2 separate regions of the Homo sapiens genome follow, and region 2 is linked to region 1. The links come from fine-mapping of genetic effects on gene expression. A gene starts in region 1. The other region holds a variant in brackets. All regions are shown on one strand. Distances are between the middles of the regions.

Region 1 (5,393 bases):
TAGTAAATTTACTTGTGTAACAAAAAAAACACAAAATATCAATGGCTTAATACACATAATTTTTTCTCCCAGAAGATCTTTTTGTGAGAAAAGGGGCTTCTAGCAGTCACCTGCTATCCTTTGCTCAGAGCTCCTCCCTCTATCTTCAAAGCCAGCAGTGTAGAGTCTTCTCCCCTCTCTTGACATCTTGTCTTCCTCTCATAAGAACTCTTTGATTATGTCCAGCCACCCAGACAATCCAGGGTAATTTAGCCCATCTCCTTAATCACATATGCAGTTCCTTTTGCCATATAAAATATCAACAGGTTCTGGAGGTAAGGATATAGACATCTTTGGGGGCCATTATTCTATCTACTACACTCCTATTTACCTTTTTCCAAGAAGGTATTAGAGAATGTAGTTCATTTTTAAAAAGGGATTAAACAAAGAAAAAGGAAACAAGGGATCTAACACACAGGAGAGCAGTATTATGTTGGAGAAACCAGCAATCCTAAATAAACTAAAGGCTGTAACGCTGTAGGAAGAGTATCTGTAAGGAAAAAAAATCTACTGGATTAACTGATGTATTTCACTGTGATGCTTTAGCAGTTTGCCAGTGTTTGAGAACAGATAAATAATACATTAAAAATGGCAGTTAAGAGAAAGGAAAGTAAAAAGTTGTATTAAAAGTTAATGCGATCTTAGTATACTATGTGCCTTGGGGTTGAATGACATTTACCTAGACAGTAGTGATAACACTAAATGTTGATTTAGCCAAAGCCTATGATATCACTATTGACAGGTGAAGGGACAAGAAGAGTGTATGAGGTAGAGAGGGAATGTTCACACACTTGGAGGTGGTGTTGTTACAAAAGACCTTTATCACTGCCTTCCACAGGAGAAAGTCAGTGGGTAATGTCTGAAATTGGAAAATCAAGAAACTGCAATGTAAGTATATTTAGACATGGGGGTAACAGATGAAATATTTAAAAGACTTGAATTTTCCTTTGGTGAGAAGAATTGAGAATAGAGTAGAAGGGTTGGGTACTACAGGGTTTTCTTTAACCTAGAATGTGGCAAACTGTTAGTGCTCACCAATATGTGTGTGTTTCTCTACATTTCTCAGGATCCCCGGCAGTTAAAGTGGGGGCCTTGGGACTAAATTCTGGCCAACAGAATGTGGCCAAATTGATACATGTCATTTTTAGAGTTAACCTTGGGTAATTTGCCATACTTTCTTTCTTGTCAAACAAGCTAGTCCTAGAAGGCAGCAGAACCATTAAAAATAAAAACATCTGGCCTTGAATTTAACATTTCGTCTGCCTAGAAATAGCCACAATGGATCTTTTGTGAGGAAAAAAAAAAGTGTATTAAACCACCGATATTTTGGGGTTTTCTGTTACAGAAGTAAATTCACTATGCTGGTTTTAAAACATGGACAAGAAATCTTTGCCAATCCTTTGAGAAGAGGGATCTATGTCTCCTTTCCTAAAATGGAACAGGACTTTGACACATTTGTAAGCAAAAGAAAGTGGGGGAAGTAGCACCGCGTTACTTTTTGAGGCAAGGTCAGAAAAGGTCAGGCAATTTTTGCCTTGTTCATTGCAACACTCCCTTTGGAGCTCTGAGTTTAAGCTAAGAAGTCTGACTACCTTGCTGCCATACTGTGAGGAAACCCCGGCCATATAGTTACAGAAGCTCTGCTAGCATGCCCACTCTAGTCTTTCTAATTGAGTTACCAAAGAAAAGCTGATGACTATGCCCTATTGACAACACCACCTGTGAACATAATAAAATGGTTGTTTTAAGCCACCATATTTTGGAGTAATTTATTACATACGATAGCAACCCAATGCTCAATCTAACAAGTAGTATTATTTGCTTTTTAATCTGTGCAATTTAACTACTTTGATAAAATTTAGAGTTAAACTAAAAAGGAAAATGGTTGTGAATTCTTCTTGGCTTATAGACTTTGCTATTCTACTTTCCCTACCCAGAAAATTCACCTTTCTCCCTAAATCACTGGCTTTCAAACTTTTTAAGGTTTGAAATACAGTAAGAAATACATTTTACAAACAAGCCCTAGTGCACACATACACGCATATATACAATTAAAAGCTCCATAAAGCAGTACTTTACTAACTAACACTAAATTTACTTACATGCGCTGATATTTCCAATCTATATTGTTTCTTTTTTTTAAGTTTAAAGAGATTTCCTTGCTTACAAATGGGTCAAGACCTCCACTAATGGGTCCCACACAATCCCCTTTCCAGTTGAAAAACACTGTCCTAAACCTAAATCATTCTTCAAGGCCTTACCCAAGTCCGAAAAAGAAGCCTTTATTGACCACTCCATTCTCAGCTTTCTTGAAATTCCTGTAATTTATTAAATTCCATTTTTTATCTCAGTAGTAAGAATATTGCATTTTCTGTACTTGAATTTAACATGCTTTACTTGATATCGTGAGCACTTCTAGGGCATTGTAATGTCCTTTATCTACCACTTGATAAATTCAGAGTAGTCAATAAAACATTGCTCAACATTTGACCATTGTGTTTTAAAATCTTAGTTGTTAGAGTGCACTTCCGTTTGCGCATTGTTTGGGGAGAGGCACGGACAAATGTTCTAATAACTTATCCACATATTATACTTCAAAGTGGAAAAACACAAAGTACTCTTAACTCTATATGCGTGTTTTTATGCAAACTAAATCATTAAGATACAAATGATTTTTCTAATAGCTTTCATTACCACACAGCACACGAAATAATGATATTGATATAGCCACGAAAGACTAATGTAACCAAGTTCTCACAATCAAAATATCTTTGAGGTGGGCAAAATGCAAACTTTTCTCTGGGATCAACATTTCTTCACAACTCACTGCAACTACGCCTTGACAGTATGTTTCGAGAACCGCTTCCCAATTTTGTTGTCCCAGCAAGAATCGGGAGGAAACTGGGTGAAAGGCTGCGAGGCTTGAGGCGGGTCCCGGACGAACGCGGCCCTGCCCCTCGCCGGAGCCTCTCGGGAGAAGTGCGACACCGCCGCTGATTGAGAGGCTGAGGCGGAACTTCCCGTCTAACCCCCCCCCCGCTGTCGTCCCAGCCTGTTGCTTAAGCCGCGCGGTGTGCGGTGTGCGCGGCCCCTGCCTTAGCAACGACGCTAGTAACTGCCTGGCTCCTCCCTCTGGTGTCTCCCGGAAAGCGCTCCGTCTGGTCCGTGCGCGATCACGGCCCGGCGCGTGGCTCGGGCTCGGGCGGAGCTGGAGACGTGTGGAGCTGTTCGAGGACTCGCGGGTGTGCAGGTCTGAGTACCACTCCGATCCCTGGTGGAGGTCCCCGCGCCTCTCTGGAGACCAGTGGTCTGGCCCCAGAGGTGCGGCCGCGGGAAGTGGACATTCTTTGTCAGGACCCTAGCGGAGGTCGCGCTGGGTGTCGCCTGTGAGGGGGATCCTCGGTTTCTGCGCGGTCTCTTGCTTTTTTTAGGATCTTGCGGGCCCTTTGGGAAAAAGGTTTCCAAATTTTTCCTCAAAAAAAAAATTATTTTTCCTACCAATGATTTTCGGTGCATTCCGCCCCAACGAAAAGTATGTCCTGGCAAAGTCAGTTCCCTAGGAACCCCATACTTTATTTTATTTTATTTTTAGTATTTGGAGTGGTTTGTGGGGGTTTGGTTATCACGGAAGGGGAAGCGTAGTACAGACGTAGAATTAGTGATGCCATGCAGTGTATTTAAAATATTGAGGTTGTGGTTACATAATAAGCAAAAGAGCCTGTTTCTTACGTCTAAATTATTTATTGGGAATGTAGGACAAATAAGGAAGTATATTAACATTTTCAGTCGCCAGGCCCACAAAGTTGGATGGTAAAATCAATACTGTAGATCGCAGCATGTAAGGACTAACCCAGTGCACCATGAAAACGAAGGCAAGACAGTTTGTTACCATATGGCGGGTGGTGTGGGAGAGGCCATTGATCCTATATGAAAAAGGGTACTACTACCTTGGATTATGAAAAATGAATGTTGGACCTGTAGGTCCTATGTGACCAAGTTCTTAAAAACACTCTAAAGAAAATTGGAAGTGGTTTTTTTCTAATACTGAATTGGTCCACAATATAGGACAGGGGAGTCTGTATAGTGTTCCATTGGGAGGTGAGTCAGCTTACAATAATGGAAGAGGTAGAAGCTTTTTGTTATTATTTTGGAGAAAAAAAAATTGCCAGCCTGCCACTTGTGCTAGGCTGCAGACGGCCCATAAAGGTAGTTTGTCAGATACTTCAGTAGTGAGATGCTTACTGGATGTGTTTTGCAGAATGGTTTTGATTTAGTTAACAAGTGTTTGTTGAGTTCCTGCTGTTGCATAAGAATCAGGAATAGGTGAGATCAGGGAAGGAATCTGCTCTTACAGAGTTGAATGCTGGAGGGGATAGATTCACTAAAGTACCTCCACAATAAATGCATTTTTCCATGTCAAATATGTGGAACTAATAATAAGTACTCAAAGAGGTTTAAGACATTGCTGTGGCCCATCTATGAGTTAATAAGGAACTGAATTAGAATCCTGACTTTGAGAGTGAAGATAGAGGATTATATACAAGGTAGATGCAACTTGGTGAGTATAATTAATTTGGGGTGGAAATTGGGTAGAAGGAGGAATAAAAAATTAATGTATTTTTAGCCTTAAGTTCCAGAATGATGGACGCACCATCAAGGTGTTAAAATTGTTAGTTCCTTAGGAACAGTCTTTATGTTTTCTAAGTCTTTTTAGCCCCCATGACTCAAATTGTACTTCCTTGCACATATTTGATGTTAACAAGTATGTTTTAAAAATTTTAAATAACCCCATTTGCAATAAAATCATTTGCAATGATTTTCTCACAGTCGAGGCAGGCTGTTGGCTCGGTTAGGACAGATGCCCTGATCATGTAGTTTCAGAGACCACTGGAGGGAGCTGCCCATGATTTACAATTGCTGGCCTCTTCTACGTGGCCACCTCAGCCATAAGTGAGAGTATATAGGTGAACTAAGAGGTGGAGCCATAAACATTTCTCTTTTACTGTCTTACAGGTATTTGTGGTGGTTGATTTTTCTAGAGGAAGGTTATTTATATAAAGCTTCACTAATATCCATTTAGTTATGTGGATAGCAGGTCCATGAACTGCAAAGTGATATTTCTGAGGTATCTCTAGGAGGAATGCACTTTCAGTGCCCTAGGATAACTCCAAAAACTCACCAGTAGTTTTCTGTTAAATGTCAGGCAACCACAGTAACTTTCATGACATCCACAGGAACTACATTTTTCAGTCCCACTATGCCTGGGCCTTTGAGTGGTACATGCATTCCCACTAAATAGCTACTCCATTACCCAGGGAAATGAAGTCAGGTTGAGCTACTCCAATCAAATTTCA
Region 2 (5,393 bases), 40 kb after region 1:
ATCTGTTGAGATGATCATGTTTTTTGTCCTTCATTTTGCTAATGTGGTGTATCACATTTACAGATTTGCATTTGTTGAATGATCCTTGTATCCCTCAGATAAATCCCACTTGGTCATGGTGAATGACCCTTTTAGTTGAATTTGGTTTGCTAGTATTTCGTTGAGGATTTTTGCATCTGTGTTCATCAGGGATATCAGCCTGTAGTTTCTTTTTTCTTGTAGTGCTCTTGTCTGGCTTTGGAAGTATTCACTGTTCTTCAAATTTTTGAGGAGTTTGAGAAGGACTCGTATTAGTTCTTCTTTTAATATTTGGTAGAATTCAGCAGTGAAGCCAACAGGTCCTCGGCTTTTCCCTGATGGGTGACTTTTTATTATTGATTCAATCTCCTAATGTGTTACTGGTCTGTTTGGATTTTCTATTTCTTCATGATTCAGTCTTGGAAGGTTGTGTGTGTCCAGGAATTTATCCATTTCTTGTAGGTAATTCAAATCATTGGCATATAATTGTTCACGGTAGCCTTCTTGTATGATACTTTGTTTCTGTAGGATCAGTTGTAATGTCTCTTCTTTTGTTTCTGATTTTTCTTATTTGAGTCTTCTCTCTTTTTTTCTTAGTTGAGCTAAAGATATGTCCATTTTGTTTATCTTTATAAAAACCAACTTTTGGTTTCATTGATCATCTTTATTGTTTTTATAATCTATATTTCATTTATTTCTGCTCTGATTTTTATTATTTCCTTCTTTCCGCTAACCTTGGGCTTTGTTCTTATTTCTCTAGTACTTGAGGTGTAACTTTAGGTTGTTTGTTTCAGATCTAGCTTCTTTTTGATGTAAATGTTTATTGATTTAAACTTCCATCTTAGAAACACTTCTGCTGCATCCATATTTGTAGTCTAATTTTCCAGTCCATGCTAGAATAATGACAAACTCCATTTTCTTTTGATCTAGGAATATAGTGCAATCAATCTTTTTTTTTCAGTAAATCTTTTGTATTCCTATCAGTCTTCTGATTTTAGGTTATTGGCCAAATAAGTATTTTGGTAGTTATAAAAATTTTTGCTTTGACTACAATTTTAATACATAAAGTAATGGTTCTTTCTATGTCAAGAGATGAGCCAGTCATATATTTAGAAGTTTTTTAAAGCTCTTAGCTTACTTTTAAAAAATTTATATATTTAGGGTTAGGCACAGTGGTTCACACCTGTAATTCCAGCACTGTGGGAGGCCAAAGTGGGCAGATCACTTGACGCCAGGAGTTCGAGACCAGCCTGGCCAACATAGAGAAACCCTCTACTAAAAATACAAAAATTAGCCAGGCATGGTGGTGCATGACTGTAATCCCAGCTACTCAGCAGTCTGAGGCATGAGAATCGCTTGAACTTGGGAGGTGGAGGTTTCAGTGAGCCAAGATCACACCACTGCACTCCAGCCTAGGCAACAGAGCGAGACTCTGTCTAAAAAGAAAAGAAAAGGAAAGAAGAGGGGAGGGGAGGGGAGAAAGAAATGAGTAAAGCAAAGCAAAGACAACAAATTTATATATTTAGAGCCCGTTTGTCTGTTTGAATAGTTAGATAAAAATAGTTTCATTACTGAATGCTTTAAAATGAAGGCTATGTTTCCCTTTTGGTGTCTCAAATAAACTTTCCCACTTCACCCACTAACATAGAACATTGCTCCAGCTATTAAAAAACTACAGTTTAGGAATGTAATAATGCAACAAACTAAAATTAATCACAAATAACCTGTATGTATTGACTTCACCAAAGAGGTATCTTGTCTGACTAGACACCTCTTGTCTGACTAGATACCACTTGTCTGTGATTTTCATTCTAAAATTAGGGTTGGAAATAGGTGTATAATACTAATTTGGGGGGACCTGGTTACTAATTTGGAGACTGCCATTTTCAGAAATGTTAGTCTTGAGATTTGTCCCTCTACATTTGCATCGAAAGGTGAATAAGTTCAGTGTAATTAAGGTCACTAAGATTATGCAGATATAATTTTTAATTTTTAATGATAAATGTTAATTAACCCAAGTGTACAGAGCATGTAACATATCACAGAGGTACATGAAGCTAACATTTTCGTAGAAGTTTATCTTACAAGAAGGATATAATACCAATTTCAATACCACAGGTAAAGGGAATTCAATCAAAATTAAGGTAGATTATTCAATATAATGTTTTAAGCCTGTTTGGCTGCTTCTAGCTATACAGCTTATTCTACACTGCTATTGTCCATGAATAATTGTTATACTGTCAAGGATATCAGACCATGTTAATAATACCTAGAAGAACATATCTTGAAATGTAAGTGTATTGAAAAACAAAAATAGAATACACTTGAAAGTCCAATTGCATACTTACTCATTCAATAAATATTTATTGAGCATCCACTACATGCCAGATATATCTATCTTGCTTGTGACTGTTTTAAAATTTTTTTTATTTCCAAATGTTCATTGCTAGTACATATGCTCCTCCACTTAACTATAGTTAATTCCTGATGAACACACTGTAAATTGAAAGAATCTTAAGTCAAAAGTGTGCATAATACACATAACCTACCAAACATCATAGCTTAGTCTAGCCTACCTTAAACGTGCTCAGAACACTTACATTAGCCTATAGTTGGACAAAATCATCTAGCAACACAATACACTATAGAGTATAGGACGTTTACCCCCCTGATCTCCTGGCTGACTGGGAGCTGCGGCTTGCTGCCACTGTCTAGCATCATGAGTGAGCATCTTACAGCATATCTAGCCTGGAAAAAGATCAAAATTCAAAGTACAGTTCCTACTGAATGCTATCACTTTTGCACTATTGTAAAGTAGAAAAATTACAAGTCAAACTATTGTAAGCTGGGGACCATCTCTTTATAAAATGTGATTTATTTTATAAAGTGACCTTGTATCCTGTGAATTTGCTAAACTCACTTATTAGTTCTGTGAACATTTTGCTAGATTCCTTGGGATTTTCTGTATAGACAATCACATCATCCCTGAATAGACAAC[A/G]TTTTATTTCTTCCTTTTCAGTAAGTATGCTTTTTATTTCTTTTTCTTGATCAATTGAATTGGCCAGGACTTGAATATTGGATAGATGTATAAGAACAGACATCCTTTCCTTGTTCTCAATCATGGAGGGAGGGAATTTAAACCTTCACCATTAAGTATGCTAGGTTTAAGTTGTATGTGCATGTTCATGTGCATGTGTGCACATGCTACCCATTATGGGATTAAGAAAGTTCCCTTATGTTCCTAGTTTGCTGAGAGTCTGTTGAAAAATATACAATGAATGGAATTTGAACTTTATCATTTTTTCTGCATATATGTGGTTTTTCTTCTTTAGTATGTTTATATGGTAAAATACATTTCTCTAATTGTATTTTCTAATTTGGGACCAATCTTGCATTCCTGGGATAGACTTTGCTTGGTTATTTATTATCATTTTTATGTTTTTGCATTTGATTTGCTAATACTTTGTTGAGAATTTTTGCATTTCTGTTTGTGAGGTATATTGGGGCATAGTTTTCTTGTGCAGTGTTTCTGTAGTTGTAGTATCAGGGTACTGCTACCCTCCTAAAATGAGTTGGGAAGTGTTATCTCCAGTTTTCTTGAAGACTTGCAATTTTTGTATTTACAGATTTTTATTCTTTCTTTCCTAAATGTTTGGTAGAATTAATCAGGGAAACCATCAGAGCCTGGACTTTTTTATTTTTGGAAACTTTATACTTAAAATTCATTTTTTGAAACAGATATAGAAACATTTAGGTTAACTTTTTTCTTGAGTGAGTTTGTCAGTTTGTCTCTTTCAAGAATTGGTTCAGTTCATCTAACCTGTGGAATCTATAAGCAGTGATTGTAGGATTCCCTTCTTCTACCTTTAATGCCTGTAAGGTCTATAGTTTTCTATTTTTTCTTGATAAATCTAAGTAGAGATTTATCAATTTTATTGATCATTTCAAAGAACAAGTTTTTTGTTCCCTTTTGTTTCCTTTACTTTTTGTCAGTTGTATTGATTTATTCTATTTATCTTTTCCTCTTTTGATTGATTTGGGTTTAATTAGCTTTTTTTCCTACTGTTTTAAGTTTGAAACTTAGATTATTGATTTGAGGTTTTTCTGCTTTTTCAATATAAACATTTAATACTATAAATTTCCTTCTAAGCACTGCTGAGAAGGACATAGCTGTAGCTGCATCCCACAAATTTTGACATGTTGTATCTTCATTTTCAATCGGTTCAAAATAATTTCCAATTTCATTTGAAACTTCCCCTTTGACCCATGGGTTATTTAGAAGTGTGCCACTTAACTTCCAGGTATTTGGGGATTTTCCAGAATTTTTGTTATTGATTCCTAATTTAATACCTATTTGATTAGAGAATACACTTTGTATGATTTCAATTATTTTTAATTTTTTAGGATTTGTATTATAGTCCAGGATATTATCTATATTCATGAATATCCATTTTCAATTGAAAAAAAAAGTTTGGAGTCTGCTTTACAGTTAGATCAGGTTGATTGATAGTGTTAGTCAAGTGTTCTAGAATCAATGGGAAAGATAGGTTGTAGTGGGATTACTCTTGGCCAGCAGTAGAAGTTTAAGTCGGATTTTGAACTCAGATTTTTCTGACTGTACAGTTGATATTGTTTCCATTATGCCACAACGAAACATGAAAAGCTCCTAAAAGGTCTAAAAATCTGCTAGGTATTATGCAGCAAACATAATTCTTGATCCTAAGTTTACCCTTATGCTGCAAGTAAATTCTATTTTTTGCTTAAAGAGGAAAAGTCAAAACCTACTTAGGAAATGTACAAGTTTTCTTGTTCTTTGCAAACAGACATTAAATATTTTATTTAATTTCTCATTGGAAACAGGCTTTAAATATGTTTTCTAGTCTACCCAATTTTGAAAGACATGTCCTTCTATCTCTTTTAAAAGTTAATAACTTTGGAGTCAAAGGGCTACTTCCCTTTTACTATAGAGGGAAACACTGAGGCATAATGAGGAAAAAAATATCTTAAACCACTGCATTAGATATCAAATTTGAGCTTTTCTTCACTTTTCACTCACACTCCTCCCTGCTTCCTTCTATTCCATGAGTTAGAGGGGTAGATTAGAGAAGTATTTTCCAGTCTTAAAGAAAAAAAAAACACCCACATTCTCTGTTCACAAATATAAGTATCCCACACTCTCCTTCTGTTACATTTAAATTTTATAAGTAAATGAAACTTTTACTTAAAAGTTTTAAATAGTCATTTTATTTTTTTTTTCAAATTTCTTATGTCCCCCTCTCCTGAATTTCATGTGTACTCCCTAAGGATGACATCCCATGTTGGAAGTGCAAATCATTTCTTCTTCCAGATTCATCTAGATCTTCCCATCTGGGGAT

The links.
Region 2: its variant is fine-mapped to the expression of DTWD1 in whole blood (INTERVAL, PIP 0.98).

What each region holds. Positions count from the first base shown.
Region 1 is chr15:49,617,834-49,623,226 of GRCh38, forward strand. It overlaps DTWD1 (DTW motif tRNA-uridine aminocarboxypropyltransferase 1), which reads left to right and starts at 3,215. Exons shown (of 5, transcript NM_001144955.2): 1 at 3,215-3,289. FAM227B (family with sequence similarity 227 member B) reads right to left here and starts at 2,985. Exons shown (of 16, transcript NM_152647.3): 1 at 2,867-2,985. RefSeq lists an enhancer at 3,327-3,446.
Region 2 is chr15:49,657,727-49,663,119 of GRCh38, forward strand. No RefSeq gene overlaps it. Among named protein-coding and RNA genes, the nearest start is that of DTWD1, 39 kb to the left of the region's middle. The variant A/G (reference allele first, on the strand shown) is at 3,017.